Homo sapiens: one gene and its partners. The protein of the gene in region 4 purifies or fractionates together with the protein of the main gene of each other region. This does not show direct contact. Each region holds a gene or a part of one and is shown on either strand. Other genes may lie near its edges.

Region 1 (4,175 bases), on a different chromosome or scaffold from region 4:
GATCTCAGATGATCCACTTGCCTCGGCCTCCCAAAGTGCTGGGATTACAGGCGTGAGCCACCGCACCCAGCCACACATTTGCATTTTTAAAAGAAATAAATGCTCAAAAAGGTAAGTTACTCAAATTTCCCTATCTAGTAAAGAAATAGGGTAAGGATCCAAGTTACTCCTGTCGGAGAACAAAGTCCTACTGTCCTACCCCGTCACCGTACCATGCTGACTTCATGCTTATTACTCACTGATTGCCCATGGGTCTTCTTTCGAGATTTCTCTAGCCCTAATGGAGTACAGCACCCTGTCCTACCTTCTTTAGCCTTGATCTCACCCTAGGCCTTGAGAACACACATTCTCTCATTTCTGCTTCATATGGCACTGTTTGGGGGTAGTTATTGGTGGTAATATTACAGGTTCCCCTACTTATCCCCTTTTCTTCCTATCATCTGGAATACTCTAAGGCCCTTTTTACACCTAATACTAGATTTGAAGATTCTAATGGAGTTGTATGTTTAGAAATTTGTCTTGTTAACTATGATACATTTTTTGAGCTACTTTTTAAGGTAACAGTAAAAAATTATACATTCCTACCTTGTGTCAATTAAGATGTGTTATACAAACTAAACATTGTCAATCAGAGCTTTTCCCTTAAAAAGAGAAAAAAAAAGGGAGAGAAAGAGTGCCATGAAACCATGAACACATACAGTTTTCTATCTTTAAAATGATAAGAAGTTCTTTTTTGAACTGTGTAAGTTATGGGTTAATCGAACTTGATAGTTACCACAGTCAGAGTATTAAAGCCAGCTCTCCCAAGCAGATGTCCCAGGTCATTGACAGCAGTGAAAGGAGAAATGTGTGGAGAAAATCCTCCTTCCCTTTCCGTTTCCGCTAACTGTAAGGAACACCGAAGTTCATAGAGTGTGTCGCCTCCAAACATTGCACCGATAAACACTCCATCTGGTTTTAAAATATAATGAATCTGTAATAAATACAAGAAAACAAAATGATTCAAATTTTTATATATATAAATGTTAAAAAATAAATATATAGTGTCTAAATTAACATTTTATGACAACCACTTTTATTCTGCCAAATTAATAATCACATAATTTAACAAATAACATCTAATGCAACCAACTGTCAGAAAATCATGATGCATAATATACTTGGAAAGACAACTATACATTCACTAATATTAATGCCTATAAAAATATGTTGTATGTTTTCAAGTTTTCTAATAGGTATACAACTTAGTTTTATAATCAGAAAAATGCTGAAAGAGAAAAAAAAATTTAATTGGGGTAGGCTGCAAAAATCACAAACCTCCCTGCATCTATGGCCTCTGAAACGTCGTTTTCTAACAACTTTCATCAAGATAGGGAGTCTATTTCCCCTCCCCTTGAATCTTGGCTGGCCTTGTGACTCGCTTTGGCCAAAAGAATGCAGTGGAAGTGACAGTGTGCCAGTTCCACGTCTAGGTCTCAAATGTGTTGCATGCTTCCACCTGCTCTCTTGGAGCCCAGCCCAGCCACGATGTGTGAACAAGCCTGAGCTAGCCTAGAGGAGGAGGAGAGATGTAGGGCAGAGATCAGCCAGCTGTGTGCACCGAGGCCCTCCAAACCAGCTAGCTCCCAGACGATCTGGCAGCTGATCACAGACACACAGATGAGCCAAGCCAGACCCAGATTTCCTAACCAAATCCAGCCCCAACTGCCAACCCACAAAATCATGGGCTACATAGTTGTTGTTTTAAGCCATCAAGTTGGGGTGCCTTATTATGCAGAAAAAGCTACAGAGAAATCATTATGATTCACAGCATTAACCTAGTAACATATTACCTTTCGTTAAAGAGAAGTAATCAATTTATTTTCCAGCTTTAAAACAAAACCAATTTCTAATTAGTAACTTAAGGAAAATAATGGCCAGAGAGAATTCCAGAATCACAGATTTTGCTCACTCTCAGACTACAAGCTGTAACTAGTTTGATTGACTATTCTCAGCAATGAGGACCATTACAGGAAAAGGTAGATTCTGAAGTAAACCAGAATCCAAATCACAGTAGGCTCTTCTAATAAAAGTACTGTCTTAAATTTATATTTAATATGTCATGAAGCAATTAAAAGCAGTATTAAGTAAATAATTTGTAAAAGCTTTGGTTCCTTCCCTTCTTCACCTTTAGTGTTGCTTCCTCCTCCTGTCATCAAACTCTACTAAACCAAATACCTAAGACTTAGTTCTCAGAATTCTGCAGCTCCCCGCTCTCCCTCAGACAGCTTATCAACTTCCATGATTTCACAATGACCACTTTCCAATCCCTAACTTCAGCTTGGCCATCTTCTCAGAAGTCCAAAGTCATCTTCAACTGCCTATTCCCTGGACATTTGTCTCTCAGCATACTCACCGTCCCTGCTCCCTCCAACCCCTACAAGGAAAACATCTATTTATCAAATCAATTCCCCTTTCCAACTGCCATATTTCTATTGCCATTTTCTATTCCCTTTATCTGATCATTAACATTCTTTCCCCTACTTTTACTAATCCAGACTCAAAAACTTCAAAGTGAGTTTTGCCTCCTCCCTTTGATCTTCAGATCTAATCAGTCACCAAACTGTTGATTCTTTCCTTGTAGAGTCCTAAATACTCTTCCTTTTAACTCCTACCATTACCACCTAGGTTTAGTTTATCTCATTCTTGGACCACTGAAACAGTCTCCCTTCAATTTAACGAACTGCTCCAGGCATCAGTTTCTTTCTTTTTTTTTTTTTTGAGACAGAGTCTCACTCTGTCGTCTAGGCTGGAGTGCAATGGCGTGATCTCAGCTCACTGCAACCTCTGCCTCCCGTGTTCAAGAGAATCTCCTGCCTCAGCATCCCAAGTAGCTGGGATTACAAGCACCTGCCACCACACCTGGCTAATTTTTGTATTTTTAGTAGAGGCGGGGTTTCACCATGTTGGCCAGGCTGGTCTCGAACTCCTAACCTCAGGTGATGCAACCACCTCAGCCTCCCAAAGTACTGGGATTACAGGCATGAGCCACCACGCCCAGCCGAGGCATCAGTTTCTAATCAGCAAAATAAATACATCTCGCAGAGCTATTTAACACAAATATAAAACAGAGCACAGTAACGGGAAACTGGAAAATCATACGTGTTCAGATATGGCCATTATTATTTTGCCCACCAGCTTTATAATGATGTCATTTTCCTCTTCAAAATGCTCCAGTGGCTCTGAATTGCATAAACTCCAAATTCCTCAACCTGACACTCAAATCCTCCTAAATACTGTCCCAATACATCACACCTCACTTCCCAGCACTATACTAGTCCTCCAAACAGGTTTCCTTTTTGTTCCTTAATGCTGATGAAGCTCTTGTGCCTCTCCACCTATCCTGTGATTCTGCCTTCTTAGAATGCCTTCCCAATCCAAACTTTACCTACCCTCTAAGGCCCTGCTCAAGTACTTTCCTCTTGAAGCTTTTCTAGGCCATGTCAAGCCACAGGGATCTTGTTCTCTCCTTTGAACACATACTTTTTACCTGCCTCTCACCTGTCTATTGATACGTGTCAATCGATAAAAACTTACCTAGCACTCTCTGAGTATAAGGCATGGAGAAAATACAAATATAAATAAGTAGGTTCCTACTTGCAAAAAGTTTATGGGCAACTAAGGGTAAGAAGAAATCTACATAGAGAATGTCTTATGATTTCAATATTATTTTGCACAGTTCCTAAGCTTTTCATAAATATTTAAAACTTATCTCTACAATTAGATTTCTTAAATTCTCAGGGAAAGGAGAGTTGCCCAATGTACTACTAATATGCCAAATGGCACCAGATGATTTCACCGATTTCTTTCCCAACTGTCAGACCTACAAGTAAATAGTATGTGAAAATAGAAACATCTGTAGATTTCTAACAATAAAGAAAATAACACAAGATAGTTGAATGAACATAAGTTTTCTTACCTGCTCAAGTGCTCTAGGAAGGTCATTCACCCAATGCAAACTAAAATATGAGAATACAGATTTGTTTTAGCTTAACTGGCACAATTAATTAGTAAAATTATCACCAGGTTAATGATAACCCATAAAAAGGTGTTAATTTTGAAGTTTAAAACTGCATATCCAAATCCACTGATCGTTTTCATACAGGTTTTAAAATTATAAATATTCCTAGAGGAAA
Region 2 (4,175 bases), on a different chromosome or scaffold from region 4:
TCAATTTTTTTTTGTGAGCATCATATTAAATGCTACATGCTTGTGTGTGTAATATAGTAGTGCCGCATGTAAGGTTTCTCCCCTCAAATTTATATTCTAGCTGGGACACAGGGCAGAATCATATGGTAAAGTTTAATTCAAGTGCAAAGAGTTTGTATCTGAGTGGCAACTGCCTGAAGCAGTAGGGGAAGGACTGGAGGAAGGGAGTGCAATTGAAGTGAGTGGTGACAACCTGCAAGTGATAAGGGGGTGGGTATGGTAGATACATGAGAGAAGAGTACACAAGGTTTAGTGATTATGCTGTGGGAAGGGGAGGAACCAGAGGTGATTCTGAAGTTTGGAACTGAGCGACTGAGAGAATGATAAAAATAGGGAAATCAAAATTGGAAGTCAGTAGGGTATGGGATAGGGTAGGTCAGTGAGTAGCGTAGTTGATGGACATGAACAGGAAGAGTAGAACAGTGTCAGGAGGCTGAGGCCGGAGAATCACTTGAACCTGGGAAGCAGAGGTTGCAGTCAGCTGAGGTGGCGCCAGTGGACTCTGGCCTGGGGGACAGAGCAAGATTCTGTCTCAAAAAATTAAAAAAAAAAAAATGGACAAGAGAACAGGTTATATTGTAATTTAAGACTTAAAACCCCCCCTAAAAAAGCTTTTTTTTAAACAACCAGTTTTCAACATCCTAGCACCATGAAATTTTCCTTTTTGAATTCTTGGACAGATAGAAGTTTTGCCGTGGTATTGAGCTGTCTTATAGTCTCACGATATATAAGTGAATGCCGAGATGATAGAAAGTAATACCTTATATTAAAACTACTGATTAGAGTCTTCCATTTTTACCTCAGGAGAGCCAAAGGAAATCAACATTTGAATTGACTACCCAATGTCCTGCCCCTGTTTCTGTCCTGTAGCACTTAGGGTATGTTGCCTATTTCATTATATGTTAAATCCATGGCATCTCCATGAATTCCACAGCTCTTCCTGCCGGTTTTAATGCTATCCTTTTAGTTTTGTTCTTAGTTTAGAGAAAGATCTTTGTAATAAATTTGTTGGTCTGGTTGCTTAGCAGCTTGCTGTGATTATGTAGCTTGGAACAGATACTTGCCGTTTGAAAATCTTGGTTTCCGGCCCTGATTCAGGTATATGTTGCATCCAGGCTTGGAACTGAGAACTTTTTTTCTATTATAGCAATTATCATATGAGTATAAATGTATAATTCTGCAGCATTTAATATATAAAATATCTTCATGTTTATATATTCTTTTTTTTTTTTTTTTGAGACAGAGTCTTACTCTGGCACCCAGACTGGAGTGCAGTGGCACCATCTTAGCTTACTACAACCTCTGCCTCCCAGGTTCAAGCGATCCTCCTGCCTCAGCCTCCCAAGTAGCTGGAATTACAGGCACACATAACTGTGCCCAGCTAATTTTTGTGTTTTTAGAAGAGACGGGGTTTTGCCATGTTGGCTCAGGCTAGTCTCGAACTCCTGACCTCAAGTGATCCGCCCGCCTGGGCCTCCCAAAGTGCTGGGATTACAGGCGTGAGCTGCCGTGCCCAGCCTATGTTCATATATTCTTTGTCCTTTGTGCTTTTTTATATATTTTTTCTTGCTCTCATAGCTTGTGGTGCAATCTTGTAAACATTGCAAAATCACTAACCCTTCATAAGAGTTCTTAAAATTTTATTTAGGAAATAAGGACCTGGACTAGAATGTTGAAGCATTGGTTAAGAGAAACACAAGAATCCTTTAATGGTATTTCTGAGGACATTAAATTTCTAATAAAATTTGACTTTTTATTTCATTTCCTTGATAGTTTTCATAACATCCAGTTAATGTCTTTCTTTCTTGACTGTTAAGTGAAGATCTTATTTCCTCAAAGTGTTCCCAGTTAAAGTCTATTTGGAATAGAACCGCCTGTAACGACACTGTTTTTTCTATAGTATCAGCAGGCCTTTGAGGGGAAATACAAAGTCTGAAATTCACTATACAGGACACAGTAGCAAATGATTTTTGCTTTGCCCTTCGAACTGTGAAGGTGCTGTATTGTCTCTCTGATGCCAGAATGTGGTACAACATAATCCTTTGCCTCTACTTAGTATAAATTTATTAGACGTAGTTCCTGCACGCAGCCCAGCAGAGAGCCCTGTATTACAGAAATAATTCTTGTGCTGCTGAGCTGGCGATTTTCCCACTTAATCACTCATGTGACGTCATCTGTGCTTTTGGTAGGAAATGTGCTGACCATGTCCTGCATTTTAAAAGGCAGTTGCAACAGGGGCATTAGCTAAAAATGAAATTAAAAATAGATATTTTAAGTTACATTGTAGGTCTTCAAAGCCCACAAGGAATAAACTGGCAAAATTATTATATTAATCAATAGGCTTGACTTGAAGAACCACATTTTCTTGTTGGTCAGTCACTTGCTAATGAACTGACATGCTCTTTCCTATTTGTTTTCTGCTCCAAGTGATTGGAGGGGCTGTTATATTCAAAGGTCTGAAATGGTTTTCTAATTTTCAGATGAGTCTTAAACATTCCAAGTTTGTTTTTATAATAAGAATCACACAAAACATCTGTTGTTAGCTTGAGATTCTTATAATGGTAGTTATAAATGGAAGAGTCCAGATGTTGGTCACTAATGGCTGGATTGCTATAGAATCTTTTGTTGTGGGCGAGAAGGCAGGACCCCTAATGTATATTTGATTTCTTGGCAGAAAGATGGATACTATGATGCTGAATGTGCGGAATCTGTTTGAGCAGCTTGTGCGCCGGGTGGAGATTCTCAGTGAAGGAAATGAAGTCCGTAAGTCATTCTGAGCTGGCCTGTCCAAAGGAAAAACAGATTTCAAATTTGGGATTTTTACAAAGCTGAAGTATTTTCCAATCTTAAAGTTGTTTTCCATTTGGGTTACCTAAAAAGAAAGCAGTGATCACTTACGTGGTCAAAGCCTAATGGGCACTCATTCTAAATGGTCACTAAAATTCTTTTCTATAGCTGCTCTTAATAGGTTTTAGCCAGGCTTTTTTATTATCTTTATTTATTTATTTTTTTGAGATGGAGTCTCTCTCTGTCACCCAGGCTGGAGTGCAGTGGCGACATCTCGGCTCACTGCAACCTCTGCTCCCCGGGTTCAAGCGATTCCTTGTCTCAGCCTCTCGAGTAGCAGGGATTACAGACACACGCCACCACGCCCGGCTAATTTTTTGTATTTTTAGTAGAGACGGGATTTTGCCATGTTGCACAGGCTATTCTTGAACTTCTGACCTCAGGTGATCCGCCCGCCTCGGCCTCCCAAAGTGCTGGGATTACAGGCGTGAGCCACCGTGCCCGGCTGCTTTTTTATTATCAAGATTCTTTTTCCACTGAATAGTTGGCACTATTTTCTGTGCCATGAACTGGGAAAAATTTACTAGGATGTTGCTTTTTTCTTTAGAGTAGTAGTTGTCTTTTTTTTATCCTGGATTTTCTTTGTGTTCTATAAAGCATTTTCAGTTGAAGTGGGAAAAATTCATAATTTCTTCTTTTTTCTTTTTTTTTAAGAATCTCATTCTGTCACCCAGGTTGCGCCACCATGCCCAGCTACTTTAAAAAAAATTTTTTTTTAAATTTTTTTAATTTTTTTTTTATTTTTGAGATGGAGTCTTGCACTGTCACCCAGGCTGGAGTGCAGTGGTGCGATCTCGGCTCACTGCAAGCTCCGCCTCCTGGGTTCACGCCATTCTCCTGCCTCAGCCTCCTGAGTAGCTGGGACTACAGGCGCCCGCCACCACGTCCGGCTAATTTTTTTGTATTTTCAGTAGAGACGGGGTTTCGCTGTGTTAGCCAGGATGGTCTCGATCTCCTGACCTCGTGATCTGCCCGCCTCGGCCTCCCAAAGTGCTGGGATTACAGGCGTGAGCCACTGCGCCTGGCCTTAAAAATTTTTTGTAGAGATAAGGTCTCCCTATTTTACCCAGGCTAGTGTCCAACTCCTGGCCTCAAGCAGTCCTCTCACTTCTGCCTCCCAAAGTGATGAGATTATAGGCATGAGCCACCAGGCCCAGTCCATAATTTCTTTTTGAAGGAGATACTAGGCATTTGCTTTCACCTACTTCATATATTTGATGCTAAATAATTAAGGATTGAGAGCCAGGTTTGGTGGTTTGCACCTGTATTCCCAGCTACTCAGGAGGCTG
Region 3 (3,405 bases), on a different chromosome or scaffold from region 4:
CAGGCTGCATTTTACAGAACAGCAGAATAATGAGCTACCCAATGTCGTGAACCAGTCCCTCTGCTTTGAGGGCAGGACCTCAGGGCAGGAAGAGCTGTTAGAATACACCATTACGTTTCTTTTGAAGGATGAGGTCTCACTCTGTTGCCCAGGCTGGAGTGCAGTGAGTGGCTGGCTATTCACAGGTGCAACCACGGCACTCTATAGCCTCCAACTCCTGGGCTCAAGCAATCCTCCTGCATCAGCCTCCCAAGTAGCTGGGACTACAGGCGTGAACCTCCATGCCCGGCTCTATGCATTTTTTCTTTTTTTTTTTTTTTTGAGACAGTCTCGCTCTGTCGCCCAGGCTGGAGGGCAGTGGCGTGATCTCGGCTCACTGCAAGCTCTGCCTCCCGGGTTCACGCCATTCTCCTGCCTCAGCCTCCCGAGTAGCTGGGACTACAGTCGCCCGCCACCACACCCAGCTAATTCTTTGTATTTTTATTAGAGATGGGGTTTCACCATGTTAGCCAGGATGGTCTCGATCTCCTGACCTCGTGATCTGCCTGCCTCGGCCTCTCAAAGTGCTGGGATTACAGGCGTGAGCCACCGCGCCCTGCCTGCATTTTCTTAAAACCTGCAGAGGGAGGCTGTGTAGACTTAAATATACTAAAAACAATCTGAAAAGCAACTATTTTGTATTGGTTTTATTTAAATTTTACAGAAACCTGATCAGAGTTAAGTATGTAATTATAAGTCCAGTAACAATTTCTACAAAAATGCACATACAATGCCAGAACTCCTTAAAAGCAACTAATATCATATTTGTGTTTTGCATAAAACATGCATTAATATGTTGGCCAAAATCAGTCTCTACAAGAAGAGACAGTCCAATACAGTCAATAAGAAAACTAGTTGTGAACAACAGGTAAAAAAAGAGGTTTCCAGTTAATGTGAAAGAAGGAATAGTACCTTTCATAAAACAAGCCCTTCAGCGCTGAGTTAACTGATCGGTACTATTGTGCTGCACGTAATGTAACACATCACCTCCAAGACTTGGTCCTGATTGGTCATAGGAAGTAAGGGACTTTCTGGTAGTTACATCAGATATTTGAGAAGATTAAAAGTTTTCCGGACATGATGGTATACTAATAGTGCAACCTTGCAAAAAGGGTTCGAAACATTGTCAGACTTGGAAGAGTTCCCCAGCTTGATAAACAACCTCAAAGACACCCCGAGCCTTTGAACGGAGCCCTCTGCACAAGGCCAGCTCAGGGCTCACCAGCATGTCCTGTGGCCACAAGACCTTCCAGCTCCACATACCACCCTTCGTGAGGATCTGCAATTAGGAGCCTGAGTGCCGAAGAACATGGTTGTGCCATTTCTTTGAGGCTTTGACTTTTTATAAGGCCTAGTTCATCTCATCCAGGGATTGGGCACTCGAATGAATACACAGATGCTGGACACATAAGGAGTATTAATATACATGGTGGCCCCACAGCCTGAAATGCTTTTATTAACATACATCAAGGTGTGTCTCCGACTGTCAGGAAAGACCTTGGTCCTCCAGAGGCAGAGAGAAGCTGAGGGTTCTCTATGTATCACAAGGCATTTCCTACATAGACTGAGGGGTGTTAAAGAGATCTCATATCAACTGAAAGGACTTCCCCTCAAATGTGGGGCTCTGTACAACCTTCCATGAGGATCTTCAAAAAAAAGATCTCATAGTCGTTAGGGAAGTGGCGGTGGACATTAACATTATATACACAAAACTCATCATTCGTGCAGCCTCGGGCCTTGTTTGTAATCTCTTCCACAGTCTGTCTCTTCCAAAACAGGGCTCCCTGCCCTGCTTATTTCAAGTAAGCTAAGTCAGGATCTGTTTTCTTTAGCAGATTCAAGGGGGAAAAATAATAATTTATTGGGGTTCTAATAACATTTTCATAACAGAATATCAAAATAGGTCCATTTTTGATATATGCTTATGAATATCCCTGATAATATCAAGAAATCCAGAGGACTTCGTAAACCACCAAGATTTCACAGGGGTGAGACCCGGTCTGTTTTCTAGGCAGCAGAGAAGGGACTAGTATACGGGCAAATGTTCTCCAGGAAGCCCTGTGAGCACTACAGTACTGAAATTCTAATTCTAGTGCCAATAGAATCATGAACGAAAATTTCACTTGAACTGTATTAGTAAAATTCATAACAAAGGCTTGCTTCCTCAACCCTGTCATCTGTTAATCTCTCCGCCTGTGACAGACATCCAGACCAGAAAACCATCAGTCCTGGCTACTCTGGAGGTTGGGCCTAGAGAAAACAAGCCCCAAGATCCTTTCTAAGCTATGACCAAACCTCAGAAAACAGGGACGTGAAAGAAGGAGCAGACCAGGCTTGAGGAAGCTTTGACCCAAGGCACCACGATCATAGGGGCGAGGGGACCTGTAGAGGTTCTAGGTGACGGGAAGAGAGCCTTCCGTGATGCCTGCGGAGGAGGTTCTGGAAGGCAACAGCTCTGTGGCAAAACACACACATCTGGGAGTGAAATAACAGATCATTAAACAAGACACCAATTTGCTTTCTCAAAACAAAATCAAACTTAAAAACTATGCAAATAACCCTGGGTGCACTGGAGTAGGAGTACACTGGAGAAGTCTGTGGAATGAGCTGCATCAGCTGAGTCACAGAGGACGCTGGCTGTGAAGTCAGCATCCACACGGTGGCTACTGCAGCTAAAGAGAATGAAGGGAGCGCGAGGCCTCTCCAAACAGAGGAGGACGGAAAGGGGGCCAAATGTGAACCACACCTCTTTTATTCCAAGAATGGGAAGCGCATTTTCATTGGCTTGAATGAGAAAGCTTCATACTCCACTCTAGCTGCAGTAATACTGCATCCCATCCACTCTTCTTCTCTTTTTTGACTGAAACTCTTCAAAGAACTGCTGAATGTCCTCTCTCTTAACAACCTGTTTTTGAAAAGCAAAGATTATGAAAGAGAACTAAGTAACAGAATCGCAATCCGAGGTCATAGCATTCACAAACAAGTCAAATGATACTGTTAAGAATTATGTTAATGATAACATCTCCATTTTCTATTTTTTTTTTTTTTTTTTTTTGAGATGGAGTGTCGCTCTGTCACCCAGGCTGGAGTGCAGTGGCACGATCTCGGCTCACTGCAAGCTCTGCCTCCCGGGTTAACACCATTCTCCTGCCTCAGCCTCCCGAGTAGCTGGGACTACAGGCGCCCGCCACCAAGCCCGGCTAATTTTTTTTTGTATTTTTAGTAGAGACGGGGTTTCACCGTGTTAGCCAGGATGGTCTCGATCTCCTGACCTCATGATCCGCCTGCCTCGGCCTCCCAAAGTGCTGGGATTACAGGCGTGAGCCACCGTGCCCAGCCTACGCCTGGCTAATTTTTAAATTTTGT
Region 4 (4,763 bases):
CGCCACTGAGGCAGCCCACCCTGCTGCCCCACTCCACCCCAGCATACCTGTGCGCTGCAGCTGCTCCTCCAGTGCCTGCTGGGAGCCATGGAACTCCAGGAAGAGTGTGGGCGCCACTAAGCAATTCAGCTTGCTGTACCTGTTGCAGGCATCCATCATGACTTCATCCAGGAACTCTGGATCCAGGGAGATGGCAGGCCAGGTGAGGCCTGGCCTTCCCAGGGGGCCTCTTCCAGGGAGCCCACCCTGACTGCCCCCATCCTCAGCTCACCAATGCGGGCTACGGGCACTGCAGCCTGGAGGATGTGTACAGTGCTGTCCACAGCAGCCTGGACACTGGGGAACGCACACGTGGCGGCCACTGTGGCCTCAGGGGCAGGGTGCAGGCGCAGGGTGGTGGCTGTGATGAGGCCCAGCGTCCCCTCGGAGCCCACGAAGAGCCCCGTGAGGTTGTAGCCGGCTGCACTCTTCCTACGTCCCAGGGACACACAAGGTGAGTACCAGGCTGTGTGATGAGGGATTTCTGGCCAGAAGCCGAAGCTGGAACCCAAGACACCGACCCCAGGCACTGAGGTCTGGGCTGGCCTCCCTCGGGCCCAGTTTCCCTGGCCCAGTGCTTTCTGCTCCACAAAGCCAGTCGGCCTCAGGCAGGGAGAGCAAACCCTGGTCCCATCCACTTTGGCCCAGCTGACAGGGCTTCAGAGCCTGAGGAAGCCTAGCCTGCCAAACCAGGGGGCCGCCAGGAGGTGCTTTTCACAGCCCGGTCTCTGCAGGGCAGCCCGCCAGCAGTGCCCAGGGCCAGAGCCCGGGCCCCCCGCAGAGGGCGCTCACCGGAAATGCCGGCCTCGGCCCGCCGTGTGCAGCAGCCGCCCGTCGGGCAGCACCACCTCCAGGTTGAGCACGTTGTCCCGCATGGTGCCGTAGCGGACCGCGTTGGTCCCCGACGCCCCGGTGGCCGCCATGCCACAGAGAGAGGCGTCCGCGCCTGGGTCTGGAGGGCGGCGTACAGAAGGCAGCCTCAGGGACCGGAGGTCCTTTCCCTCGGGCTGGGGGAGGAAGGTCCCCTGAACCCCAGACACAGCCCTGCTCCCACGGTGCCCTCAGGGTCCCAGGAAAGGTTCGCGAGTCCTACCCACGGGAAACCAGAGGCCGCTGTCCCGCAGGTGGGCGTTGAGGGCTTTGCGGGTGACACCTGGCTCCACCACCACAGAGAAGTCCTCCTGGTTCAGCTCCAGGATTCGGTCCATATGCGTCAGGTTAACGCAGACGCCGCCCTGGTTGGGGCAGGTGCTAAGACCACTGCAGACCTGGGTCTCTGACCTGGCCACGTCCCCGGACCACACCCCGCGGGTGTCCCCCCAGCAGCCAGACCAGACCCCCAGAGGCAGGCAGCCCACGGGCGGGAGCAGACCCAAGGTGCCGTGTGTGGCGGGGGAGGCAGCCACAGGTGTGCCAAGGTGTGCTGGGACCATCCTCGGGCCGGGCGAGGGAGCCCCACTGTACCTGCACAGCACAGACGCCACCCTCAAGCCCGGTGCCGGTGCCGAATGGGATGATGGGCACACCTTGGCGATAGCACAGGGCTGCCAGCCGGCTGACCTGCTCCACGTTCTGGGGCCACACCACAGCATCAGGAGGTTCGCACCTAGAACCAGACCCTCAGCGATTTAGCGGGGCGTGACACCCTCTGGTCCCGAGGTGTTGCAGGGCCTGAGGCTACAGCAAGCGAGGGGCAGAGAACATGCCAGAGCACCCCAAAACAGATGAGTGAGGAGGAAGGCAACCCAGCACCCTCTCTCTCAGCTGGGGTTGAATCCAGAAGACAGGGGAGGGGCCCGCGAACCCTCCCATACCTGTGCACCGACTCATCGCGCCCGTGCTGCTCTCGGACCACCGCGGCAGTGGACACGTGGGAGCCGCCCACCACGGCCTTCAGAGCCTCTACGAAGTCCCTGCAGAGCTCTCCCTGCAGGGAAGAAACACACTGCCAGGGTCCCCCGAAAGACACATGGGGCCACAGCCCTGCCCCAGTGTCGGGGGGAGGGCTGGGGGCTGGAGGCTGGAGTGAGCCTCCCCTGCGCCCGCCCCGCTGACAACATCCTTGCCAGGTGGGCCCACTTTAAACAAACCCACTATCCAGAAATGCCTCTTTTCCAAACAGAGCCATTGGGGGTCAAAGTTTCCCCTCAGAAAAAAACGCCACCAGAATTTTTTTAATGTTTTCTTTTTTAATAAAAACAGGGTCTTACTATGTTGCCCAGGATGGTTTCAAACTCCTGGGCTCAAGCGATCCACCTGCCTCGGCCTCCCAAAGTGCTGGGGTTACAGGCGTGAGCCACAGCGCCCAGCCATCCAAATAAAAAACCAGAATTCACTCTCCAAAAAGGCTATCAGCAGGGTTCCTTCAATAGCCAGCCCAGCCTGAGCAACCGAAAAGATCCCTCACTTCCTCCTTTCTCCAGGGCCAACCAAGCACCACCCCAGCCACAGGGAACTCAGAGCTTGATAAGGGAATTAGGGGGAGGAAAAGCTTCCACTGCCCCCTCCCCACTCTACGTTGCCTGGGGCTTCTGGGCCCTTCGTGGGGGGCGGGGCGCGGCGGGGCGGGGGATGTGTTTCTTCCCATTTTACAGATGAGAAATGGAGGCCAAGTTAAGGACAGAGCCTGGCCTGGAACCCAGGCCCTTTCCTTCAGGGCCTTCTTCCACAGGTGTGTTTTATTCCAGGGGCATCCATTTGACTCCCCCAGCCCCACTCATGGTAGCAGTGGGGACTCAGCTGATCTCACTCTACACCCACCCACAGTTGCCACAGGGTAAGCCCAGTGCCCTTTTGCCCAAGGTCAGGTCACTTGGTGCTGGGGCGTCACAGAGCCCAGGAAACTTGGGATCAGAACCCCCTGCTCCCCGCTCCCCACCTCATCCCTCCAGAGGACTTCTCTTCTCTCCCGGTACCTTTGCCTTCTGGGAGCAGTAGCCCCTCCAGGGGAACAGCTCCCAGGTTGCAGACCTGAGCAGTCGGGCCATAGCCAGGCACTGGCCAGAGGGTGTGAGCACTGGGTGGCAGGGTGACCAGTCAGCTACTGTGGCAGCAGCTACTGCTGCTGTCAGCCCATTGGCTAGGCCAGGGGTGGGGCCTGCTTAAGGTGGCACGGGCTTTAAGGTGGCCCTTGCAGATCTTGCAGACATTTTCGTGGGCTCCAGGGACGACACTTCTAAAGGAGAGGCGAGGTTCACTGGACGTTTTGGGAAACTGTAAGGCAAAAATAAAATTCTAAGCCTCCCAACCGACTGAATGGACCTCCCTCTCAGCCCAGGGCATTCCAAAATAAACCTGAAAAATTAATTCAGGCTGTGATGGGAAGAGGTTTAGGACAAGCCTCATTATCCCCCTCCTTCCTTTAGAATTCAGACACAACTGACCAGCATTAACATTAAAACAGAGACCTTAAGGCATTCTGATCTTAAGACACAAAACAGACTCTTTGTAGCAATAAGATACCAAATTCCAACCTGACTCTAGCATCACCTGACAGATAGCAGGCCCTGAAAGAAATCAATGTATTTTACCCCCAAAATATATTCCTCTGATTTTTTTTTTAAATAGCTCCAAAAAGCTGTCTTTTGTGGGGAAAATCTAGAATCTGTAGAGAATCCCCTCCCCTTTCCAGGTTTTTTGTTTTGTTTTGTTTTGTTTTGAGACAGAGTCACTCTGTGGCCCAGGCTGGAGTGCAGTAGCGTGCTGCAACCTCCACCCACTGGGTTCAAGCGATTCTCCTGCCTCAGCCTCCCAAGTAGCTGGGATTACAGGTGCCTGCCACTGTGCCCAGATAATTTTTCTATTTTTAGTAGAGACAGGGTTTCACCATCTTGGCCAGGCTGGTCTTGAACTCCTGACCTCGTGATCCACCTGCCTTGGCCTCCCAAAGTGCTGGGATTACAGGCATGAGCCACCGCGTCCAGCCTCTTTCCAGGTTTTATCCTGATCTAAGGGAGATTTAACTAAGAGTCTGGCACCTTTTAACGCCTTAGACATTTACCATCTATGTTACATAATAAGAACCTTGGGCCGGGTGCAGCGGCTCACATCTGTAATGCCAGCACTTTGGGAGGCCAAAGTGGGAGGATCACGAGGTCAAGAGATAGAGACCCTCTTGGCCAACATGGTGAAACCCCGTTTCTACTAAAAATACAAAAATTAGCTGGGCATGGTGGTACACGCCTGTAGTCTCAGCTACTTGGGAGGCTGAGGCAGGAGAATCGCTTGAACCCAGGAGGTGGAGGTTGCAGTGAGCTGAGATCGCACCACGGCACTCCAGCCTGGCGACAGAGCGAGACTCTGTCTCAAAAAAAAAGAACCTTGGTCTCCACAACTCCTTATCTTAACCCAGATGCTTATTTCTATTGATTCCAGGTTGTCTTTTTTAAAATTTTTTATTTAAAAAAAATTTTGTTGTTGTATACCAAGATTCCAAGTCTTTGGATAATAACTTCTTTCAACCAATTGAAAATCAGAAATTTTTTTTTTTTTTTGAGATGGAGTCTCACTCTGTTGCTCAGGCAGTGGCGTGATCTCAGCTCACTACAACCTCCATCTCCTGGGTTCAAGCTGTTCTCATGCCTCAGCCTCCCAAGTAGCTGGGATTACAGGAGTGCCACCATGCCCAGCTAATTTTTGTATTTTTAATAGAGACAGGGTTTCACCATGTTGGTCCAGGCTGGTCTCGAACTCCTGACCTCAAGTGATCCACCCGCCTTGGCTCC
Region 5 (3,632 bases), on a different chromosome or scaffold from region 4:
CATGGGGAAAACACCAATCAGCCTTTGGGAAATGGCACCATGGGTCTCCGGCTGGTAGGAGGGAGAGCTGTGAAGGAGCAAAGGGAGAGATGGCGAATTCAGCACTTCCCAAGGACTGGTAGTAGGGAAGACGGCGCTCTGGGGGTGCAGGGATGGAGTGTGGGGACACTGCACATGTAGGGAGCTCAGCTACTTTACTGGGGACCCCAGGCATGTAAAGGTTCTCTAAGCCTTGGTTTCCTCGTCCATAAAAACAGAGGAGAAAATATCTACATCAATATCTACATTGTTGCGATGATTAAATCAGATACTACATAGGGCAGTGTTCTATGAATATTCATTTTTCCTTCCTCCCTTCTCAGGAAGGAGGCAAAGGCCTCCCAAAAGAAGGAGACACATTTACATGACTGCCTTGTAGAAAATGGACCTGCAGAGATTTAAATGATGCAGAAAATACCCAGGATTATCACTAGAGTTGGTGCACCACATAAGCTATTCCCAAAGCACACATGATGAAACGGAGTTTTCTATGTAGTGGGCTGATGCTTAAAAGGCATCTGAGGAGATCAACAGCCAGTTGGATCTTAGTTTCTTATTCCATGACCACGAAATGAGTTGGAGGACGGAAGGAGTTAATTTGTGTGTCAGAGAAGCAAGGGCAACCCCACAGCTTGCAAAAAAAAAAACAAAAATAAGTGCATTTTATTTAAACAACGGAACAAACATCAGAGAGCATCCCCTGCAAAGCCCCCACCCCAGAGCCTGCTGATGGAAGCGGGGCTGCAGGACGCTCTGCCACAACGGCAGCATCTCCAACTGCACAAAGACCCCTTGCTGCCAGGGCCGGGCACCGGCCTAGCTCCTTGCCTGCCTGCCTGAGGCAGCCGTGGAATCAGGGCAGGGGTGGCACAGGTAGAAAAGACAGATGGAAACAATGCCCATGAATATACCCAAAGTGTCCCAGGAGGATAAAAGCCATCATGAGGACCAGAAGCCAACCCAGTCTTTTTTTGGCCTCCTGGAGAAGTTGTTTTTGAGACCTGAGACTCCAGCTGAAATGGCTCCCTGAGGAGCCCCAGGGAGCAGGAGGGGTGTTCTGAGGACAGCCCCTGAGGAAAACACAGTGCCTGCAGAGGGACAGCCCCCAGCACCCTCCGGCAGGGCTCTGGACAGCTAAGCCCAGTCCTGAGAGGGTCAAAAAGAGAGATGGAATGCTCAAGAAAAGAGGCATTTAAAAATTAAGAGAAGAAAGACAAAAAAGAAAGGGTCTGATCTGAGGCTGAGGTATTGGAGATAGATGTGGGCCCAGAGAAATCGGGTCCCAGGGTACACACATGCTGGGGGTCTTTGTCCTGATGAATTAAGAACCATACACACAACCTCCTTGGGAGCCCCGAGCAGTGCGCTGCAGGGCCAAGGAAACAACCAGCTCCAAAGGGACTCCCTGAGCCTCCGAAGGCAGCTCCTCTAACGCCTCCCTTCCTCCCAAAGGGCTCCCGGCCCTGATACCCCGCAGCCACCGCACGCCATCAGCTTGCCATGTCAATGACAAGAGCTCGTACGAGTCCACACATTTTAGCCTGAGATAGGTTATATAGTCACAGAATGTGTGGCTTTACTGTTCCACTCAACCCCCTGGTCCCTGGTGGCTCCTGCAAGTCAAAGGGGGAAGGAGGGTGCTTTCTCAGATGGAAGAAGGCAGGCAGCTCCTCAGGCACTTGGTCTGGGTGGAGGAGAGGCTGGGCTGCCCCAAGCCCCTGCTCAGGGCCTCAGAAGCGATACACCTTCACTCTGTTGTGCTCATCAAGGCCCAGCTGCAGGAGGCTCAAAGTAGCTTTTGGCTTGGGTGTTGACGAGAAGAGAGGTCTGGCCACAAGGTGAAGGAAAACTGCAGTCGCTGGGCATAGCCAGGCAGGGGCCATGAAAGGGTCAAAGGCTGAACAGGATCCTCCTCAGCCCCTCAGGGCACAAGCACAGTCCCCACAGCCCAGCCCAGTTTGGGAACCAGGTAAAAGGATACAACCTGGGGTCATTCTTGACACGTTCCAGCCACCTCCGGTTGGCCTCAATTATGCCCTGAAAGGTGGTGCTGCCCGCCTCAGGGACTTGCGAATGGGAGTGCTGTAGGAGCCGGAGCTGCTCACTGGGAAGGAAGAGGAGAGCATGGCGAGGGGAGAGAGGAGGCGCGGAAGTGACAGAGGATGCACAGAGGCCATCACATCTGTCACCTCCTCCCTCTTTCTCTCAGCTACCAGAGCAGCTTCTCCGAGGTCCCTAGCAATTCAAAGCTTCAAAACATCTGCCCCTCCAGAACAGTTCCCAAACGGGAAAGTGGTGGAGGCCCTCTGCCCCCTTGCTGGGTGCTACTGATACAAGGCTCTGGGCTCCCACATCCGCCTGCTCCCGCCAATCTCATCAGCAAAGCGCTCCCCTCTGTCAACTCAATCCTTGGCCAGCATCAGCTCTCAAGTTGGCCAAAGGGTTAGTGGGGGGTACTCACTGTTAGCTGCCTAAGGGAGGGAGAGGGGAAAACATTTGGCAAGGAATGAGATGAATGGAAAATTAATAACAGGTTTAAATAATTGCCCGTCTGTCTCCTCCACAGGGTGTCCCTCTCACTCCAGATGTTGCTCAGCAGGACTGGGGGAATAAGGGAGCCACAGGAAGCAAACAAGAGCTCAAGGGCAAAGACAAAGGCCAGACTCCGGGGCTGGAGGGGCTAGAGGGAGGGGCGGGGGCAGGGTCCCACCAGGGGCTGACTCCTCCCCACAGGGGCCAGAGGGCAGCTTCCTCAGGGGGTTGGCAGGGTAAGCCCAGCCCTTCCCCACTGGGACCTTGGCGGTGTGAACTTGACTTTCCCCTGGTCATGGAGGGGCGCCTCAGACCCAGGCAAGCGGGGACAGCTCTGTGGACTAGAGGCCTGCCTGATTTCTTGGGGTAAGACCAGGAGGTCTGCTCCCCTCAGAGGTCCACCTGCCCAGGGAGGCACAGTGAGCAGCTCGACTATGACGTTCCACCCCAACCAGCCCCCAGGGAGGCTCACCTGGCAGACATGTAACCCAGCCTGCTCTCCAGCGGGGTGGGGCTGTTGCTGAGCAGCGGGATGCCAGCTGGAAGAGCATGGGGACAGGACTCAGAAATGGGCAGTGGTCACCACCCTGCCCACCAGCACCTCTTGCCTCCCCAGAATAAACAATAAAAGGAAAAGCTTCAGTGGCTGGAGGCCAGAGACAGGTGAGAGACAGGAATGGTCCTATTTATTTTATTTTTAAAACTTAATCTACTTTTCAATTTGGGTTAGGGCAAAAAGAAGATATTTTGTTTCCCCTCAAATGCCTTGTTTTATGGCTTTTCATAATCCTCAGCAGGGCTGAGACCTGGGGAGGCCACCTGGCTCAGAAGCAAGAATTAGCCACACAGCCAAGAGGTTCCAAGCAGAATCCTGGAGTCACAGAGACATGGGGTCACAACTGAGTTTGTTACTCACTCACTGGGTACCCTGGAGCATACTACTTAAACTCTCTGAAACTCAGTTTCCTCATCTGTAAAATGGGGATAAATAATTACTACCTCAGAGAATTAAGAACTAAATGAAAAAATATATATAAACTGCTTGGCCCATCATGTATTGC
Region 6 (3,971 bases), on a different chromosome or scaffold from region 4:
AGACGCCATGTTGTGAAGGCACGCAAACAGCCTACAGAGGTCCACATGGTGAGGAACTGAGGCCTCCTGCAAACAGCTAGCAATGACTTGCCAGGCATAAGTAGCTACTTTGCAAATGGGTCTTCCAGCTCATCAGGCATTCAAATGACTGTAGCCTGACTGACAACTGACTGCAACCTCCTGAGACCTTGAATCAGAACTGCCCAGCTCCCAAATTCCTGACCCATAGCATCTGTGGGGTATAATAAATGTTTCGGAATAATTAATTACGCTTCAATAGACAATTGACACACACCTAAAAGTGTCTTTTTTTTTTTCATAAAATTGTTAAAGTCTTTTGTAGAAAAGTTCAATTCTATTTTTCTTCTTTTTGAAGACTGCATTTGTTTCTCAGTGGTCATATCACACTGTGTGGGAGACGCTGAAGTATCAGCAGGCAGCAGCCAGAACACCTGGTGGCCCCTCCCAAGTGACTCCAAACCAGCCAGCTGGCTGTGGCCTCCCTGGGCTCCCCACTTCCCAGGCAGCTGGGAGTGGGGAAAAGTTAGGTTTCAGATCCGCTGGGGCCCCCACCCACCTCATTAGAAAAATCAGAGAGGAGGCCAAGTCCACAGCAGCTGTTCATATGACATACTTTATTTCCAATCTACAACCATTAAAAACGCTTTATAAGTTTACACTGTACAGTTATTCTCATGTCTGAAATAAGACACAGGGGCAGGGAGAGCTGGTGGATTGGACTGCAGTTGTCCTAGCACCCGATCCATCCTAGGAAGGAGCCTTTTGAAGACAGAAGTGGAAAGGAGAGAATAGTGGACAAGAGAGGTGGACAGTTGGCCCAAGGATGCCCTTGGTCCCTTCCCTCCCATGGGCCTTGCCCTGGGGGTCCCCCAGGGCCCATGACTGCAGGACCCTCACCAGGAAACCAGGCTGAGTGGGAAGGGGGTTCACAGTATTGGCGGGGGCTGGGGAGGGGCCAGGATGAGGAGGAAGGGCAGCTTCTGGCTCTCTTCCCAGCTGCTGGGGGTTGGAGCTGTTTTTTGGCACTGTCTACAAGGTATCCCTGGGGTTGGGAGGAGGAGGAACTGGGGATTTAGGATGCTTTCTTTGTGGAGTTAAGATTTCTTTCAGTTTGAAGAGGCGCTATCTGGCCTATGGTGAGGTTCCCAAGGGAGAAACAGTCAGGGTCTTCTGCCTCCTGCCTCCCCAGGACTCCCACCCCCTCCCTGGCTGGCACCATCCACACAGCCTTTTGTAAAACCAAGACAAGTGAGAGAGGTGAGCAGGAGCAGGGAAACAAACAATGTGTGCTTTCTCCAGGCCCTTCAACTTCTCTTCCTCTTCCAAGAGGAGCGACTATAGGGTTGGTTTTTGTTGGTGGTGGTTCCCAATCTCAGGAGTCCAGATAAGGCTGGTGTTTTCCACCTGTTCTTGGCCTAGCCAGTCCCAGTCCCTCCCCAGGCTCTACTAATGGCTAGCCCAGATCAGCAGTTGGCATATTCTTATGCGTCAGAATCATTTGGAGGGCTCCTTAAAACCCCAGCTTGTAGGGCCCCACTCCACAAGCTCTAATTCAGTGGGTCTTGGGTGGGGCTGCTAATCTGCACTTCTATCAAGTTCCCAGGTGATATTCCTGCTGCTGGAATGCAATACAAGAACCACTGGCTGAGAATGGTGCCCGCAGTCACCTCATTCTGAGCAGCCTGGTGTCTCCTGGGCAGCACTAAGGAGCTGGGCCACAGCTGGCAAAGCCCAGCCTTGGGGCACCACATCACCTGGGAAGCTGCTGGAAATGGTCTTGGGGTGAGTCCCCCGTGCAGAGAAGTAAACTAAGGCACAGAGATCAGTGGCAGAGCTGAGAGAGGAGCCAGGATACCAGGGCCCAGTAGAGAAAGGATGGGGCTGCAGGACCCTACAGCATGAGGGGTGCTCTAGGGACCACAGGGCCATCCTGGTGCTCATCACAGGATCACAAGACTGGGAAGGTAGGAGAAGTGAAGACATCTGCCCAGACCTGGGCCAGGTTTCCAGATTGCCAGCTGAGGTCCCTCTTCTTGGGAATGGTTTGAGTGGCTTCCAAATAAAGAGTGACAAGGCAGCCAGCCCTGACTGCCTCAGCCCTTCAAAGATGTTTAGAGAAAACCAAAGGTCCCTTCCTCAGGGCATGGTGTCCAGAAAGCTGGTGAAGGGCAGGAAGGGAGGGGAGCAGGGCCGTTGGGATAGACAAGCAGCAGAGGAGGCTCCAAGGAGGGTGAGGAAGGAGTGGCAGGGCTGGCATTGGAGAGAAGCCCTGAGCAGGAGACTTGGGCCCAGCATCATGTCCTCAGTCCCCTCAGGACTTGGGTCTGTATATTTTGCAAACTGCAAATGCTGTTGGGTTGGGAGGGGTAAGGCATAGAGTTGGGGTGAACTGTAGATTCTGCCAGGACAAGCAGCTCTGAGAGTGGTGAGGTCCAGAGGAGAATGGAGAGGATGGTTGGATACTGAATGGACAAAGAGATGGATCAATGACCAGAGACAGGGAGAGAAGAACCTGTCAGGCAGCACCTGCTTTACAGTCAAGGCCATCTGGGCCTGGGCAGGGCAGGGGAGGAAAAAGGAGGGATCCAAGCCCCCCCCACCCACCACCACACACACGCCCATTGCAAAGTGCTGGGGCTGCTGCTGGCAGGCTGCTTACAGAGAAGACAGTGTGGCTTAAGGGTGGCACCGGGGGGTTGCTGGGGCAGGGTGAGCCCAGTGAGAAGGGCTGGCAGGGCTGGTGCCTCCTGATGCATTGGAGGAAGAGGCTTTTTTTTGTGTGTGTGAGAAAACACAAAATAAATAAACACAGAACCAGGACACCACCACATTTGAGAGCAAATATCAGAGTTGGGAAACCACAGACGCGGACAGGAAGGCTTCCCTGGTAGGAAGCAGGGGGACAAGAAGCCAGTTACTGAGGTTACGGGAAAATCCGCACGAGGCAGCAGTGCTGGGAAGAACATCCTGGGAGGACTGAGGGCTGAATACTATAGTGAGCTCCGGACCCAGAAGAGGAAAACCTGGCATGGACCAGGGCCACTCCATTTGCTGGCAGGAACCAGCCAAGGAGAAGAGGAGGCAGGAGGACAAGAGGCTTTGGAGGGAGATGATAAAGAAAGAATGGGTGAGTGGTGGGAAGCAGACTGAGCCCAGAGAAAGGAAGGGGCTAAACCAAGATTACAGAAAGTCAAAGCAGTGTCTCATTCACTACTGGGGATGCAAGACCTGTTAGGAGTCAGGAAACCTGGGTTCTGGTCTTGGCTCTGCCTCTGGTTTGCGATGTGACCTTGGGTGAGCCACTGCCTTCTCTGGGCCTGATTCCTCATCTCAAAAAATGAGGGGGCTGGACACAAAAGGACAAATACTATATGATTCTACTTAAAAGAGATACCTAGAATAGGCCAATCCACAGAGAAAAAAAAAAAGTAGAATAGAGGTTACCAGGGACTGGGGACAGGGGGAGTGGGGAGTTACTGTTTAGTGGGTACAGAGTTTCAGTTTAGGATGATGAAAAAGTTCTGGAGGTGGCAGTTACACATTGCAAATGTACTTCGAGACACTTAGAAATCTTTAAAATGGTAAATTTAATGTTATGCACATTTTGCCATCATTCTTTTAAAAAGGAAGGGGTTTAGACCAAATTATGTTATGGCCTCCTTGCTATTCATGAAGACTAGTGAAGGGGGTGAGGAGAGTATTGTCCCCCACCCCAGGGCCAGGGCACTGAAAGGCTGGGCTGGGGACACTGAGTGTGATCAGATCACTTTCCATTTGTGTAGAACCTTACACTTTTCCAAGGAGACTCGCAGGCACAGTGTTGCAGTTGGTCCTCACCACAGTTACATGGGGTGGGACATTATCCTCACTTTACAGATGGGGAAACTGAGGTATAGACTAGAAACATGATCTCGCCAAGGTCAATCACGTTGGTGGATTATTTATTTTTT
Region 7 (4,175 bases), on a different chromosome or scaffold from region 4:
TACAAGTGTGAGCCACTGTGCCTGGCCCTCCATCTACCTTTCAAAGGCCACCTCTGCCCATAGTCTCTGGATCCCTTCCTTCTCAACTTCTCAAGTACCATGCTCTTCAAGTATTTCCTCTCCTACATCAGCCATCTCTCCCTCCCTGCTAGATTATTCTGAAATTCATACAAAGGGTTATAGGGTATACCTCTCCTTTCACCCCACATCTTCCTCCTCTCCATACTCACCCATCTTTCTGCTTCCTTCCAGCCCAAACTTTTTTTTTTTTTTGAGACAGGGTCCCGTTCTGTCACCCAGGCTGGAGTGCAGTAGCGTGAACATGGCTCACTGCAGCCTCAACCTCCTAGGTTCAAGCAATCCTCTTGCCTCAGCATCGTATGTAGCTGGGACCACAGGCACATGCCACCACTCCTGGCTAATTAAAAAAATGTTTTTTTCTTTTTTCTTTCTTTTTTTTTTTTTTTTTTTCTGAGACAGTCTTGCTCTGTCGCTCAGGCTGGAGTGCAGTGGCGCAATCTCAGCTCACTGCAACCTCTGTCTCCCAGGCTCAAGCAATTCTTTTGCCTCAACTTCCTGAGTAGCTATGATTATAGGTGTCTGCCACCACGCCTGGCTAATTTTTGTATTTTTAGTACAGACGGGGTTTCATCATCTTGGCCAGGCTGGTCTTGAACTCCTGACCTTGTGATCCGCCCACCTTGGCCTCCCAAAGTGCTGGGATTACAGGCATGAGCCACCATACCTGGCCTAAAATTTTTTTTTGTAGAGATGGACTCTCACTTTGTTGCCCAGGCTGGTCTTGAACTCCTGGGCTCAAGCAATCCTTCTGCCTTGGCCTCCCAAAGTGCTGAGACACCACAGTTAGCCCAGACAGAACTTTCTAGAGTGGCCTACACATGTTATCTCCACTGCAACCCTGCCTTTTCACTCTGTGTCCATCACCCCACTGACATTTCTCTTGTCAACCCCACAAGACCAAAGAACAAATCCATTGGATTTCTGGATGTCAGTAGCATTCCAAACACTGACCGCTCCTTCTACAAAACACTCATAGTCTCCTTTTGTTCATTCTCTTCTTCCCAAACTCTTTTTTTTTTTTTTTTTTTTCTGAGACAGGGTCTCACTCTGTCGCCCAGGCTGGAGTTCAGTGGCGCGGTCTCAGCTCACTGCAACCTCCGCCTTCTGGGTTCAAGAAATTCTCTGCCTCAGCCTCCCAAGTAGCTGGGATTACAGGCACCCGCCACCACGCCCGGCTAGTTTTTTGTATTTTTAGTCAAGACGGGGTTTCACCATCTTGGCCAGGCTGGTCTTGAACTCCTGACCTCGTGATCCACCCGCCTCGGCCTCCCAAAGTGTTGGGATTACAGGCGTGAGCCACGGCGCCTGGCTCTTCCCAAACTCTAATGGAATTCTCTTCTTACCACTCTACTTAACATTGCAACTTCCCCCCCACCTCCATCTCCCACATTCCTGATCCCTCTCACTTTGCTATACTTCTTCACAACAGCACTTACTACTTTCCAGTATACAAGATAATCATTTTTTCCATTTGTTATTAATTGTACGTCTGTGCTTGCAAGATAAAGCTCTTAATCTAATAGCGTAATAACATACAACACAAATTGCAGTGAGTGCTCTGAAGGGAATAAACTGGGAAAAGTGATAGCAATTAGGGTGGAATGGGGTGGTGGAGCCAAGCCCTGAGGCAGAAAAAAAGAGCTTGGAAAGATCTAGGAACAAAAAGAGACTCTTTCGGAAAAGATGAAGTTATATGAAATGAAGCTGAAGAGGCAGCCAGGGACCAGATTCTGTACTGACTTGTAGACCCTGAAAAGGACTTTAGATTTCATTTTATTTTTGAGACGGAGTCTTGCTCTGTCGCCCAGGCTGGAGTGCAGTGGCACGATCTCGGCTCACTGCAACCTCCACCTCTCGGGTTCAAGCGATTCTCCTGCCTCAGCCTCCCGAGTAGCTGGGATTACAGGCATCCACCACCACGCCTGGCTAATTTTTGTATTTTTAGTATAGATGGGGTTTCACCATCTTAGCCAGGCTGGTCTTGAACTCCTGACCTCGTGATATACCTACCTCAGCTTCCCAAAGTGCTGGGATTACAGGTGTGAGCCACTGCGCCTGGCCAGATTTTAATTTAATTTAATTTAATTTTATTTTATTTTGAGATGGAGTTTCGCTCTTGTCACTCAGGCTGGAGTGCAATGCCCCGATCTCGGCTTACTGCAACCTCTGCCTCCCAGGTTGAAGCAATTCTCCTGCCTCAGCCTCCCAAGTAGCTGGGATTACAGACATGTGCCACCACACCCGGCTAATTTTTGTATTTTTAGTAGAGATGGGGTTTCTCCATGTTGGCCAGGCTGGTCTCAAACTCCTGAGCTCAGGTGATCCACGCACCTCAGCCTCCCAAAGTGCTGGGATTACAGGTGTGAGCCACTGCGCCTGGCACCAGATTTTATTATCTGATCATTGAGAAGCCAGGTTTTCATCAGAGAGTAATGACTGGCTTTGTATTTTAAAACATTTACTCTGGCTTCTAAGGACAGATATTATAAGAAGGCAAATAGGGAGATTAGAAAGGAAAATGATGTAATAGTTCAGGTAAAAGATGGTGGCAGCTTAGGTGGGGTGGGAGTAGGGTGCTGGGATTGAAGCAGCAGACAGGTCCAAGCTGTAGCAGCACTTGCATCTGGATTAAGCGTAGGGGGTAACAGAGAGGATTAAATTAAGATGGTTCCCAGGTTTCTGGATGGTGCGTCTGGGTGGATTGATTGTGCCATTTTCTGAGATGGGAAGGACTGAGGCAAAACATAGTTTGGTATATGAATTAAGTTATGTTTATTCGCTTTGGATATGTTTGGTTATAGATTCCTGTGGTACATCAACATCAAAGTGGATATGTTAAGGACGTAGCTGGATATAGGTTTGGAGTGCAAAGGATATATTTGGGCTGCAAGTAAACATTTGGGAGTCATCATCATATAGGTGGCATTGGGAATGGATGAAATACCTAGGCAGAGAGTGTAGATTCATTTATCCATCAATTTAATAAATATTCATTGATTATTTCATATAATTTAATCATTTAATTTAATCAATATTCATTGATTATCTAATGTGTAGGTGTTCTAGTTATTTAGGATTCATTAGAGAACAAATAGATAAAGACCTCTACCCTTCTGTACTTTATAATCTTGTAATCATATTATAAGTAATTGCCAATGTACACTCCTCTACTGATGTTTCTTGACCTCTCTACTGCACTTTTTCTTACTGCAGAGAGGTCAAGAAACATGAGAATGGGAGTGTACATTGGCAATTACTAGGTATAATTAAACCTTTAAGAATCAAAAGGCAAAAGTCTTACCTTTAATGTCGTTAATTTCTTCCTTAATGATTTTCCTAAACTTTGACAGCATCTTAGAAGCTGATAATATTTCACCTTCTAAAAACTGACTCAGAGGATTTTCTTTCGGATTTCTTTTAAATTTCACAAAGTAATATGCACGAGTGTTGGAATATTCTTCTAGTTGAATTCTGGGGACTTCCAGTTTAAACATGACATCAAATTCATTAGGTGCAGAAATCTAAGAAACAGTAAAAATAGTACTGAAATATTTGCTTATGAATATTTTCCAAGTGACTGGAACTTTTTAAAAAATTTCCACTTAAAACTTTACTTTAAAAAGCAAGATTCATAATGTCTATATATACCCTCTGGGAGTGGGACTAGTGGAGCTGGCAGGAGGTGGAAGAGTATTACCAGTTTCATTTTGTAGGTTCTACACTCAATTAATTTTTTTTACCATGACCTAGTATTATTTTTATAACTAAAAATGATTTTAGGCCAAGTGCAGTGGCTCACACCTATAATTAAATTTTGTGGGGCCAGGTGCAGTGGCTCATGCCTGTAATCCCAGCACTTTGGGAGGCCAAGGCGGGCGATTCACCTGAGGTCAGGTGTTCGAGACCAGCCTGGTCCAACATGGTGAAACCCCGTCTCTACTAAAAATACAAAAATTAGCCGGGCATAGTGGCATGCGCCTGTAATCCCAGCTACTCAGGAGGCTGAAGCAGGAGAATTGCTTGAACCTAGAAGGCAGATGTTGCAGTGAGCCAAAATAGTGTCACTGTACTCCAGCCTGGGCAACAGAGCAAGA

The links.
Region 1: the proteins of LDHD (region 4) and NDUFAF5 purify together in Homo sapiens (affinity purification with mass spectrometry; one large-scale study listed by BioGRID and IntAct). This does not show direct contact.
Region 2: the proteins of LDHD (region 4) and RACGAP1 purify together in Homo sapiens (affinity purification with mass spectrometry; one large-scale study listed by BioGRID and IntAct). This does not show direct contact.
Region 3: the proteins of LDHD (region 4) and UBR7 purify together in Homo sapiens (affinity purification with mass spectrometry; one large-scale study listed by BioGRID and IntAct). This does not show direct contact.
Region 5: the proteins of LDHD (region 4) and CEP164 purify together in Homo sapiens (affinity purification with mass spectrometry; one large-scale study listed by BioGRID and IntAct). This does not show direct contact.
Region 6: the proteins of LDHD (region 4) and MTCL2 purify together in Homo sapiens (affinity purification with mass spectrometry; one large-scale study listed by BioGRID and IntAct). This does not show direct contact.
Region 7: the proteins of LDHD (region 4) and CGAS purify together in Homo sapiens (affinity purification with mass spectrometry; one large-scale study listed by BioGRID and IntAct). This does not show direct contact.

What each region holds. Positions count from the first base shown.
Region 1 is NC_000020.11:13,798,284-13,802,458, reverse strand, and holds part of NDUFAF5 (arginine-hydroxylase NDUFAF5, mitochondrial), read right to left. Parts: intron 3,999-4,175; coding exon 3,959-3,998; intron 974-3,958; coding exon 776-973; intron 642-775; coding exon of another isoform or gene 615-641; exon of another isoform or gene 586-614; intron 1-585. UniProt on the Homo sapiens protein: Arginine hydroxylase that mediates hydroxylation of 'Arg-111' of NDUFS7 and is involved in the assembly of mitochondrial NADH:ubiquinone oxidoreductase complex (complex I, MT-ND1) at early stages. May also have methyltransferase activity.
Region 2 is NC_000012.12:50,015,258-50,019,432, reverse strand, and holds part of RACGAP1 (rac GTPase-activating protein 1), read left to right. Parts: intron 1-843; exon of another isoform or gene 844-881; coding exon of another isoform or gene 882-917; intron 918-2,713; coding exon of another isoform or gene 2,714-2,717; coding exon 2,718-2,802; intron 2,803-4,175.
Region 3 is NC_000014.9:93,226,482-93,229,886, reverse strand, and holds the end of UBR7 (putative E3 ubiquitin-protein ligase UBR7), read right to left. Parts: intron 2,945-3,405; coding exon 2,852-2,944; 3' UTR 672-2,851; downstream 1-671. UniProt on the Homo sapiens protein: E3 ubiquitin-protein ligase which is a component of the N-end rule pathway. Recognizes and binds to proteins bearing specific N-terminal residues that are destabilizing according to the N-end rule, leading to their ubiquitination and subsequent degradation.
Region 4 is NC_000016.10:75,113,695-75,118,457, forward strand, and holds the start of LDHD (probable D-lactate dehydrogenase, mitochondrial isoform 2 precursor), read right to left. Parts: upstream 3,087-4,763; 5' UTR 3,027-3,086; coding exon 2,955-3,026; intron 1,967-2,954; coding exon 1,854-1,966; intron 1,646-1,853; coding exon 1,504-1,645; intron 1,275-1,503; coding exon 1,133-1,274; intron 992-1,132; coding exon 832-991; intron 541-831; coding exon of another isoform or gene 472-540; coding exon 272-471; intron 177-271; coding exon 48-176; intron 1-47. UniProt on the Homo sapiens protein: Involved in D-lactate, but not L-lactate catabolic process.
Region 5 is NC_000011.10:117,410,306-117,413,937, reverse strand, and holds the end of CEP164 (centrosomal protein of 164 kDa), read right to left. Parts: intron 3,111-3,632; coding exon 3,044-3,110; intron 2,641-3,043; coding exon of another isoform or gene 2,616-2,640; exon of another isoform or gene 2,144-2,615; coding exon 2,021-2,143; intron 1,867-2,020; coding exon 1,770-1,866; 3' UTR 672-1,769; downstream 1-671. UniProt on the Homo sapiens protein: Plays a role in microtubule organization and/or maintenance for the formation of primary cilia (PC), a microtubule-based structure that protrudes from the surface of epithelial cells. Plays a critical role in G2/M checkpoint and nuclear divisions.
Region 6 is NC_000020.11:36,776,827-36,780,797, forward strand, and holds the end of MTCL2 (microtubule cross-linking factor 2), read right to left. Parts: 3' UTR 1,006-3,971; coding exon of another isoform or gene 948-1,005; 3' UTR 621-947; downstream 1-620. UniProt on the Homo sapiens protein: Microtubule-associated factor that enables integration of the centrosomal and Golgi-associated microtubules on the Golgi membrane, supporting directional migration. Preferentially acts on the perinuclear microtubules accumulated around the Golgi.
Region 7 is NC_000006.12:73,442,146-73,446,320, forward strand, and holds part of CGAS (cyclic GMP-AMP synthase), read right to left. Parts: intron 3,603-4,175; coding exon 3,383-3,602; intron 1-3,382. UniProt on the Homo sapiens protein: Nucleotidyltransferase that catalyzes the formation of cyclic GMP-AMP (2',3'-cGAMP) from ATP and GTP and plays a key role in innate immunity.